Homo sapiens: one gene and its partners. The protein of the gene in region 1 purifies or fractionates together with the protein of each later gene. This does not show direct contact. Each region holds a gene or a part of one and is shown in the gene's direction. Other genes may lie near its edges. The genes, in order: CTDSPL, USP29 and TBC1D4.

The links.
Region 2: the proteins of CTDSPL (region 1) and USP29 purify together in Homo sapiens (affinity purification with western blotting, with the first as the bait; one study listed by BioGRID). This does not show direct contact.
Region 3: the proteins of CTDSPL (region 1) and TBC1D4 purify together in Homo sapiens (affinity purification with mass spectrometry; one large-scale study listed by BioGRID and IntAct). This does not show direct contact.

What each region holds. Positions count from the first base shown.
Region 1 is NC_000003.12:37,868,243-37,871,976, forward strand, and holds part of CTDSPL (CTD small phosphatase-like protein), read left to right. Parts: intron 1-3,734. UniProt on the Homo sapiens protein: Recruited by REST to neuronal genes that contain RE-1 elements, leading to neuronal gene silencing in non-neuronal cells.
Region 2 is NC_000019.10:57,118,599-57,122,816, forward strand, and holds the start of USP29 (ubiquitin carboxyl-terminal hydrolase 29), read left to right. Parts: upstream 1-1,386; 5' UTR 1,387-1,631; intron 1,632-3,726; 5' UTR 3,727-3,876; intron 3,877-4,218.
Region 3 is NC_000013.11:75,363,670-75,367,169, reverse strand, and holds part of TBC1D4 (TBC1 domain family member 4), read left to right. Parts: intron 1-3,500.

The sequences.
Region 1 (3,734 bases):
TTTTGCCCATGTTCTAATTGGATTTTTTTAAACCGTCAAGTTTTGAGAATTTTTATATATTATAGATATTAGTCCTTTTTCAGATATGTGGTTTGCAAGTATTTCTTCTAGCCTATAGCTTGGCTTTTCATCCTCTAAAGAGCCTTTTTCAGAGCAAAAGTTTTAAATTTTGATAAGGTGCAATATATAAATATTTCCTTTTATTGATTGTGCTTTTGGTGTCAAATCTAAGAACTCTCTGCCTAGCACTAGATCCCGAAGGTTTTCTCCTACGCTTTTTCCAAGTTTTATAATTTTACATTAAATTTAAGTTCATGATCCATTCTGAGTCCATTTTTTAATAAGGCGTGAAACTTTGGTTTGGTTTTTTGTCTCTGAGTGTCTGGTTGCTTCAGCTACATTTGTTGAAAAAGTTATCTGTCCTTCCTCCTTTGAATTTCTTTTGCATCTTTGTCAAAAATTAGTTGGGCATATTTATGTGGGTCTGTTTCTGGGTTTATTTATTTTGTCCCACTGATCTATATGTCCATCCCCCTGCCTATACTATATAATCTTGATTTCTGTAGCTAAATAATAAGTCATGATATAGAGTAGACTGATGCTTCCAACTTTTGTTCTTTTTCAAAATTGTTTTAGCTGTTCTAGTTTTGTTGCCACATTATGTAAATTTTACAATACTCTTGTCTATATCTACAAATATCTTCCTGAGATTTTGATAGGAATTTAATTAAACCTGTGTATCAATTTGAGGAGAACTGACATCTTTTCTAGATTAAGTCTTCCAATCCATGAACACAGTACGTCTCTCTATTTATTTAGATCTTTGATTCTGCCATTAGGCTTTCAGCATACAAGTCCTATTAATATTTTATTAGATTTACATCTGAGTGTTCTTTTTAAACTATACATATTTTAATTGATACATCATAGTTTTACATATTTATAGGGTATATAATCATATAAACACATTGCGTAGTGATCAGATCAAGGTAATTAGCATATCCATCATCTCAAACATTTATCATTTCTTTGTGTTGGGCGCATTTATTATCCTCCTTTTAGTTATTTAAAACTATATAGTATTGTTGCCCATAGTTATCCTACAATGCTGTAGAGTGTTTATTTTTTAAGCGACTATCAATTGTATTTATTTTTTATTTTGGTGCCCACGTGTTCAGTGCTAACATGCAGACATACAAAAGATTTTTGAATACTTATCTTGTATCCTATGACCTTGCTGAGCTCACTTATTAGTTGTAAGAGGCTTTTTATAGATTCCCTGAAGTCCTTCACATAGACAAACGTGTCATCAAATAAGAACACTTACATGTCTTCATTTCTGACTTGTATGCCTTTTATTTCTTTTTCTTGCTTTATTGCACTGACTAGAACTTTAGCAGTATGTCGAACAAGAGTAGTGAGAATGGACATCCTTGTCTTGGTCCCAGTCTTAGGGGGAAACCATTCAGTATTTTATCATTAGTATAATGTCAGCTGTAGGTTTTTTAATAGAAGTCTTTAACAGGTTGAGGAAGTAACCTTCTAATTCAATTTTTCTGAGAGTTTTTAATCAAGAATGAATGTTAACTTTTGTCTTATGCTTTTTCTGCAACAATTAGTCTAATCATGTGATTTTTCTCCTTTAGTCTGTTAATGCGATAGATTAAACTGATTTTTGAATATTGAACCAGACTTGCGTCCATGGAATGAACCTTACTTGGTTGTGGTGTATAATTCTTTCTATATATTGATGAATTCTATTTGCTAATATTTTGTTAAGGATTTTTTTGTCTGTAAGTGATGTTGGTCTGCAGTTTTCTTTTTTTGTGTTGTCTTTATCTGGTTTGGTATCAGTGTTACCTCTCTTTTGTATTCTGGAAGAGATTGTGTAGAATTGGTGTGAATTTTCCAGTGAAATCATCTGGGCCTGGACGTTTTTTCGGAGGGATGGGGGTTGGGGGGAATTTTTAAACTACAGATTGAATTTTCTTAATAGTTATAGAGCTATTTAAATTATCTCTTTCAGATTGGGCAACTTGGGTAGTTTTTTGTTTTTCTGAGATTTGAGTCATTTCATCTAAGTTGTCAAATTTGTGTGTATAGAGCTATTCATAGCATTTTTCCCTTATTACCTTTTTGATGCCTGCAGAATCTGTAGTGTTATGCCCTGTTTCATTCCTGATGTTGACAATGTGTGTCCTCCATCTTATTTTTTGTGTGTCAATCTTGCTTGAGGTTTCTCAATTTTCTTATTCTTTACAAATAACCAGTTCTTTGTTGCATTGATTTTTAAAATTGCTTCTGTTTTCAACTTTGTTGATTTCTGTTCTTATCTTTATTTCCTTACTTCCGCTTTATTTGGGTTTATTTTGCTCTTCTTTTTCTAGGTTCTTGAAGGGGCACTTAGATGAATGATTTGAGGCTTTCTCCCTTTCCTAATTTATGCATTTAGTGCTACAAGTTTCTCTCTCAACACTACCTTAGCTGTGTCCCACGAATTTTGATATTTTGCAATTTTGGTTTTCATTCAGTTCAATACTTTTTAAAAATATACTTTATTTTTAAAAGCAGTTTTAGGTTCTCAGCCATATTGAGCAGAAAGCACAGAGAATTTCCATATATTCCCTGACTGCACAGATGCATAGCTCCCCATACTATCAACATCCCACACCAGAGTGGCCCATTTATTACAATTGATAAACCTGTGTTGACATGTCATTATCACCCAAGGTCCAAGAACATAAGGGTTCACTCCTGGGGTTTTATATTCTATGAGTTTGTACAAATGTATAATTACATATACCTACCATTATAGTATTATACAGAATAATTTCATTGCCCTAAACATCCTCTGTGCTCCACTTATTCATCTCTCTCTCCCCTGCCCAATCCCTGGCAACCACTGATCTTTTTACTGTCACCATAGATTTGCCTTTTCTAGAACGTCATATACTTGGAATCATATAGTATGTAGCCATTTCAGATTTGCTTCCTTCACTTAGTAATATGCATTTTCATTTCCTCCATGTCTTTTCATGGCTTGTTAACTTATTTCTTTTTAATACTGATTAATATTTCATAGTCTGTATGTACCACAGTTTATCCATTCACCTACTGAAGGGCATGTTGGTTGCTTCCAAGTTTTAGCCCTTATGAATAAAGCTACTATAAACATATGTGTGCAGGTCTTTGTGTAGATTTAAGTTTTCAGCTCTTTAGGGTAAATACCAAGGAACATGATTGCTGGTTTGTATGGTAAGAGTATTTTGTTGTTTTGTAAGAAACTGCCAAACTGTGTTCCAAAGTGGCCCTACCATCTTTAGCTTTCAGAAGTTTAGTTATGATATGTCTTGGCATGGATTTCTTTTAGCTTATTCTGTTTGCAGTTCATTCTGCTTCTTGGTTTATGTCTTTGCTAAACTGGGGGAGTTTTCAGGCATTATTTTCTTGAGTACTTTTTCAGCTCTGCTCTTTCTCTTCTCCTTCTGAGACTATGATGACATAAATGTTAGATCTTTTGTTATAGTCCCACAGATTTATCCATACTGAGCTTTTTTGGTTTTCAGTCTTTTCTCCCCTATGTTGTTCAGTTGGGTAATTTCTGTTGTTCTGTCTTCAAATTTGTTGGGTTTTTTTCCTTATTTCTTCTAGTCTGTTATTGAGCACATCCACTGAGATTTTTATCTCAATTATTATATTTTTTAGTTCTAAATTTTCCATTTGGTTTTTCTTTA
Region 2 (4,218 bases), on another chromosome or scaffold:
GACCTCTCATTATGTGCTCATTAACATACTAAGTCACACACCCACTGTGACAGCTCTGGGGAACACCCGTATTTAGTATAAAAATGTGTGGCACCGCAGTACCAAGAAATGTTTACCTTTTTCCAAGAATCTTCATGAATATTCCACCCCTTGGTTAAATAAATATTTAAAGGTAGCTCCAAACCCCGCTGGGCGTGATGCTCTGTGGTATGCCTGCACTTTTCTTTCTTCAGTACGTACTTATTCCCGTCGCAATGAATCTCCACACTTTGTTCTGCTCATCCATGAATTCCTTCTCACGACAGTGTCAAGAGCCTGGACACCAGTCAGGGTCGAGGCCTCACCAGCATCTTGGGGCCTCACTGGGCACAGACGCGTGAGCGCCCGGCCTGCAGACCTGACTCTGGCAGCCGCTCAGGCCCTCAGAGGGAGAGATGGAAGCTGGCAGGACGCAGTTGCTACCGCGCGGACCCGGCCCCCGACCAGCCTTGGCCCCTCGCGCGCCGGGACAGGGCCACAAATGACTGCACCTGGGCTTCGCTGGCCCAGGCACCACGCGACTCTAAGCGCGCCCAAAGCGACCCTCTGCGCAAACTACCCCCGGGGACGACGTCACCCGTGAGGTCCCGCGGCGCCTCCTCCTAAAGCTCGGCTGGGAAACCGTCCGCTTCCCCAAGACTTGGGGGCTTGTGGCCGAGTTGTTTTAGTTTTCCTGTAGGATTCACGGGTGGCTGAGGCAAACACGCTTGAAGGCCTAAGACTTTTAAGTCTCTTCCGCACCCTCTCTTCTGTCTCTTCCACCTGGAGGATGACCGCTTTTTTGGGGGTTTTGTTGTTGTTTTGAGACGGAGTCTCGCTCTGTCGCCCAGGCTGGATTGTAGTGGCGCCATCTCCGCTCACTGCAACCTCCGCCTCCCGGGTTCAAGCGATTCTCCTGCCTCAGCCTCCCGAGTAGCTGGGATTACAGGCGCCCACCACCATGCCCGGCTGATTTTTGTATTTTTAGTAGAGACGGGGTTTCGCCACGTTGGTCAGGCTAATATCAAACTCCTGACCTCAGGTGATCCGCCCTCCTCGGCCTCCCAAAGTGCTGGGATGACAGGCGTGAGCCACCGCGCCCGGCCGGGATGACTGTTATTAACAATTCCCGGCGTGGTTTCTAGCACCAGCCCACCTACCACACCCCACCTCGCTTGAGGCTGAATGGGTAACAGGATGAACCCGCCCCTGGGCTGGTTTTCTCTGAACCCTAACTCCTGCCGTTACGCCCCACCAGCTCTAGGCCAGGAACTCTATGTGCCCCGGCCACGCTAGAGCCCGTACCTAGACCCGTAGGTCGGGAGGCCTGCGCCCGGCACTGCGCAGACGCAGCGTGCTGTGCCCAGAACTCTTCTGTTCCCAGGAGAATCAGGGGAGTCGGCGCCGGAAGGGGCGGGTCCGAGCTGAGATTTCCAGAGCCATGGGAGCCGGAAGTCCAAGGAACTGTACCTCCATCATGACGACTCCGGTTACGTAAAAACATTCAAACAGAAAATGCTGGCCAGGCTCATGCCTGTAATCCCAGCACTTTGGGAGGCCGAGGCGGGAGGATCGCTTGTGCCCAGGAGTTGGAGACCAGCCTGGGCAACATAGTGAGACCCTCCCCCCACCCATCTCTACAAAAAATTTTAAAATTAGCTAGCTGAGATCATGCCACTGCACTCCAGCCTGGACAACAAAGTGAGACTATGTCTCAAAAAAATTTAAAAATTACCCACGCCTGTAGTGTCAGATAGTCAGGAGGCAGAGGTTGGAGGATGACTTGAGCCTTGGGGATCGAGGGTGTAGTGAGGTATGATCGCACCACTGCACTCCAGCCTGGGCAACAGAGCAAGACCCTGTCTCAAAAACTATATAAAAGAAAAAAGGGCTGGGTCGGTGGCTCACGCCTGTCATGCCAGCACTTTGGGAGGCCGAGGCGGGTAGATCACCTGAGGTCAGGAGTTTGAGACCAGCCTGACCAACAAGGTGAAACCCTGTCTCTACTAAAAATACAAAAATTAGCTGGCCATGATGGTGGGTGCCTGTAATCCCAGCTACTGGGGAGGCTGAGGCAGGAGAATCACTTGAACCCCAGAGGTGGAGGTTGCAGTGAGCCGAGATCACACCACTGCACTCCAGCCTGGGCGACAGAGCGAGAGACTCCGTCTCAAAAAAAAAAAAAAAAAAAAAAAAACAGAAAAAAGGCCGGGCACGGTGGCTCACTCCTGTAATTCCAGAACTTTGGGAGGCCAAGGCGGGCGGATCAGGAGTTCGAGACTGCCTGGGCAACATAGCGAAACCCCGTCTCTACTAAAAATACAAAAAATTAGCCAGGCGTGGTGGCGGGCTCCTGTAATCCCAGCTACTCAGGAGGCTTAGGCAGGAGAATCACTTGAACCCAGGAAGCAGAGGCTGCAGTGAGCCGAGATCACGCCATTAAACTCCAGCCTCGGTGACAGAGTGAGACTCCATCCCCGCTCCGCTCCCTCACCTCCCGCCAAAAAAAAAAAAGAAAATGCACTGCAATAGAAAAATAAAAGTACTACACTTTGGTCAAACAGGGTAACTACTAGAACGTAAAATGATCTTTTTGAAACTATCCACATTTGTTACACGTGTTGAAAATGTAGGATATATATGTTATATATATACTTATATATGTTATATATACTTATATATGTTATATACTTATATATGTTATGTACTTATATATTATATATACTTATATATGTTATATCTACTTATGTTATATACTTATATATGTTATATATACTTATATATGTTATACATACTTATATGTTATATATACTTATGTTATATACTTATATATGTTATATATACTTATACATGTTATACATACTTATATGTTATATATACTTATATATGTTATATATACTTATATATGCTATATATACTTATATATGCTATGTATACTTATATATGTTATATATATACTTATATGTATGTTATATATACTTATATATGTTATATATGCTTATATGTATGTTATATATGCTTATATGTTATATATACTTACATATGTTATATATACTTACATATGTTATATGTACTTACATATGTTATATATATACATATATGTTATATATATATAATTATATATATATAAAACAAAAAGCACGGTTACTACAAAGAAAACAGGTAAACATTAAGTGGAGTAAAAGTATATCCTGTTATATAAGGGACTTGAACATGTCTGGGCATGGTGGCTCAAGCCTGTAATCCCAGCACTTTGGGAGGCTGAGGCGGGTGGATTACTGGAGGTCAGGAGTTCGAGACCTGGGCAACATAGCAAGACCTTGTCTCTATTAAAAAATAGATAGATAGATAGATAGATAGATACATAGAACATCAAAAGAGGGAGAGAGAAAGCAGACAGATGTGGCAAAATATACACAATTGGTAAATTTGGGTGAAGGGAATATAAGTTATTTCTACTAATCTTGCAATTCTTATGTATATTTGCAATGATTTCTAAATAAAAGTTTTTAATTACCAATTGAAATAAAGTAAAATAAGTCACTATCTAGCCTTTTCTAGACAAATATTTTAAACTCTTACACAGAGATAAGTTAATCAAGAAACGTATTTCCTGGAAAAACCCGTGATATGGGTGGAGCCACCTGGGAATAAAAGGTCGGAACATCATAATCACTGTCAGACTCAACTTCCATCATTCTCCTCCAGGCGCTATGGAGTCTAATCCAGGCACTTTGGAAGGCTGAGGCTGGAGGATCGATTGAGGCCAGGAGTTTGGGACCACCCTGGGCAACATAGCAAGATCTCATTTCTGAAAAAAGAATTATCATCCACTCACCCAGAACAGCTCTCCAAACTGTAAGTTTCATTCAAGGTTTGCTTGTTTGGGTGATGGGATGTGTGTGTGTGTGTGTGTGTGTGTGTGTGTGTGTGTGTGTGTATGTGTGTGTGAGTGTTGGAAGGAGGGTCTGTCTAAACTTAATGCCCTAAAGATATTGTCAGATATTGTGATGAGGGGAATTTCATCTTCTACCCTTTATGAGGTTGAATTGTAAATTCGAAAATCCTGATTCTGGGTTTTTATTTTGAGGGGATAGTTTTCTGTTTTCTGTGGCATTGGATATTGGCATTTTCAGAAAAGAGCATGCATCCAAAATGAAAATGATGAAGCCTACCTGTCTTTTGAACTCAGCTCAGGGA
Region 3 (3,500 bases), on another chromosome or scaffold:
TTAGTCCCAAACAATCTGTGTATTTCCTGATTGCAGAGTCAGGAAATACTTAACTTTTGAAGCAATAATGGTTACTCCTGGGAAGTTTTATAATTGGCTGCATAGTGATAACGTGGACTTTAATAAATACAATGAAAATACCGCCAGCTTATTTAGAAAGAGAGAACTTAGAGCTAATACTGAGGACTACACCAGTTTGGCAAAATCATTGCTCTTCGTGACCACCTCCAGTTTCCAGCTGGCTTCCTGATCAAAGGTATCTTTCCTTAGTGCTTTTTCACTCTCCAGATTTTCTCCTGTGTTTGTTCAGGTCTTTGAACATCAGTGTTTGGTAGTTGTAGAATTTGTTTTATTTTGAAATCAGGTAAAATGTAGTTTATAAAATGTTAATGGGTTTTTTGAAGTATGTTAAGTAACTATGATAACCAATTAATGAGAAAGAACAGCATGACATCAAGGAATCTAGAAGCAATATTTTTTTTTTTTTGTCTAGAGTGAGGAATTGCTTTAATGTCTGAGTCTTGGTACTTGATTCTAAATTGTTTTAGTGAGGTCACTGAAGGTGTAACAACAAAATACTAGCTAAAGGTGGCACTGTGCTTTTTCTAAATATAATGAGACCCTTATTTCTGTTGAATTGATTCCTGTGTGTTAATGGAAATGGATCATTTTAACAACTTGCACACTACTTCAGGTTTAATCATAAAGGTGATTTTTCCCTCTCTTGATTGTACATTATCCTGCCTTTATATTGGCATTAATCCAAAAATTAACTCACAGAATGTGGATCTCGATGAGACCTTATCAACCATCTATCAAGTTCCCCCATTCACTTTGCTCTTGAGGAAGTTATCTGGCAGAGGTGCAACAACTATTCCCAGAGGTCTTGAGCAAAATATTGGGGATAGAATATAAACCTGTCAGTCCCTAGTTTGGTTGAGCCTCTTTCAGTATCATTGTTTTGTGTTAATAGATTAAATGCTGCCACTGAGTAGAAATCTTGCCTTAAATTGGTGTGTGTAAATCGTCATTAGGCTCTGTGGGTTGTAGGCAGATTCTGAGCAGCGGAATTATTTGTAGCTACAATATGTAGCTAGGGTGTGTAGCTTGAGGTGCTCTATAACATTTAGAGTCATTCTGGAAACATACCGTCACTTCCTAGTTTGGGTGAATGGTGAGCAGAGTGAGAAGCCACTGCTTTCTATTTTTGGGTGTGACAGATCTCTTGAGTCACCAACGGGAATTTACTAAACTGTCTCAGTCCTGAAGAATTTATATCAGAGTTCTAGGTAGTTTTTCACTCCTATATATATGACTCTGTTTGCTGTCAGCATTCATTCAAGTTCTTCTGAGCCCAGACCATTTTCCTAGTGGCCACAGGGAGGAATTCTAGTAAGCAACAAAATCCCCCCAACTCAGTCTTTCACTTAAGAGCTTATGGTACGATGGTACAGGAGAAAGAGATATTGAAAAGATACAACACATATAAGAAGGATTCAAATTCGTTCAACAATATTTGTAAATGTATGTATAAATATATGTCAGTTAACACTATGCTACAGGAGAATCCTATGATTCCAAAATATTGTATGTATGTACAAGTACTTGATAGAAATTTTATTTCTCTTGCATTGTTTCTGATGAATCCCTTAAGTAAATGCTTCAATACAAGATTTTCATGATTCTCTGATCACTCATTTCCCCGCTATGGATATTTTACTGTGCTTATATGAGCAGTGTGCCCCTTCTGGTGTGGCCTAAGTGAGTAGTCAGGGGCTGTATAATGCTAGTGTTTATACTCTGTGTTTCACATGAGGATAAGCAAAAAAAAAAAAAACAGAGCTGTTGTTAGATTAGTTTTGCAGAGTCTCTGCAACCCATGTCATTCAAGTTGTGGTTAGTCATAACCTGAGAAAAGGTAGTAAAGGTAACTAGAACCAGTTTTGTGTTGTAATATTAGCATCTTAAATTATTAAAGATTAAATTATGTACTCAGTTTAGAATTCAAGATGATAAACTTTGCTTATATAAATTGGATCACTTACAGAATTACATTTAGGTGTTGAGTTTTTACCTGTAGTCACAGGGAAGGATCCTGGGAGACTACAGAAATTCAGCCACAAATCAGTTTTTCATGTAAAAACTCTTGATATGGCGGTAGAGAAATTCAAAAGACTTGACACAATTAAGGTTGAATTGACTTTATGTGCAATCTCAATTGTAGAATGGAACTCTGAGGTTGTATGTAAATCATTTAAATATTTGTAACAAGATAAAATATCTGCAGTAAAATCAGTGCTACAGGCTATATTTCTGATTCCGTACTCTGTAGAGACACTTTTGGAGGCATACTTGGGTTAAAAATTAGATGAAAAGTATTTAGTGGAAATCAGACAAAAAGATTTTGGGTTAAAAATCAGATTAAAAATATTTAGTAATCAGATGAAAAGTAGAGAGAAAGAAGAGATCATTCTCCTAGGGCTTTGCCCACTAGAATCATTTTATTTTTTGCAGGTTTGCACGGTTGAGTGTCAGCTAGCTCACTCTCCATAGCTTTGGCCCTTGCCAGGTAAGGTAAATCACATACTAAGGCAGTAAGAAAATGATGAAGGGTTGAGGTTGCTAGTCACATGTTAGCACAGATACCTGACTTTGTCCCTGAGACATGGCAAGTGTTCAGGGTGAGTCACTGAAGCTATAGCATGTGGATTTTATCCTTTCATAGGAAATACTTGGTCTAGCAAGCGGAAATTCTTGTTATTTGTAAACTATGAATGTTCTAGCAGTATATCCCAAATAATTACAACAGCCCCTCCTTATCCACAGTTTCAGTCACCTGTGGTCATCTGTGGTCCGAAAATATTAAATGGATGTGGCAATAAACTGTTAACATCTCTGAACTCAGAGACCTTGTGGGAGGAATGTGCCTTGTATGTTGGAGAAATAGCAAGGAGGCCATTGTGGCTGGAGCTGAGTAGAAGGGAATTTAGTAGGAGATAAACTCTAGGAACCAATTGCCAATCAGGAAATCTTTGAATCCACCTACGATCTGGAACTGCACCGCCCCCACCATGCACACTCCCCACCCTGCCCCTTTGAGTTCTCCCACCTTTGTGGATCGAACCAATGTACATCTTACATATACTGATTGATGTCTCATGTCTCCCTAACATGTAGAAAACCAAGCTGTAGCCCAACCACCTTGGGCACATGTTCTCAGAACCTCCTGAGGCTGTGTCATGGTCATGCCCTTAACCTTGGCAAAATAAACTTTTAAACTGATTGAGACCTGTCTCAGATACTTTTTGGTTTATAGAATGTACCACATTTTATTTATCTCTTCACTTGCTGATGGACGTTTGGATTGTTCTCAGTTTTAGAGTTGTGAACCAGAAAATCTGAGACAGGTCTCAGTTAATTTAGAAAGTGTATTTTGCCAAGGTTGAGGATGCGCACCTGTGACACAGCCCCAGGAAGTCCTGATGACATGTCCCCAGGGT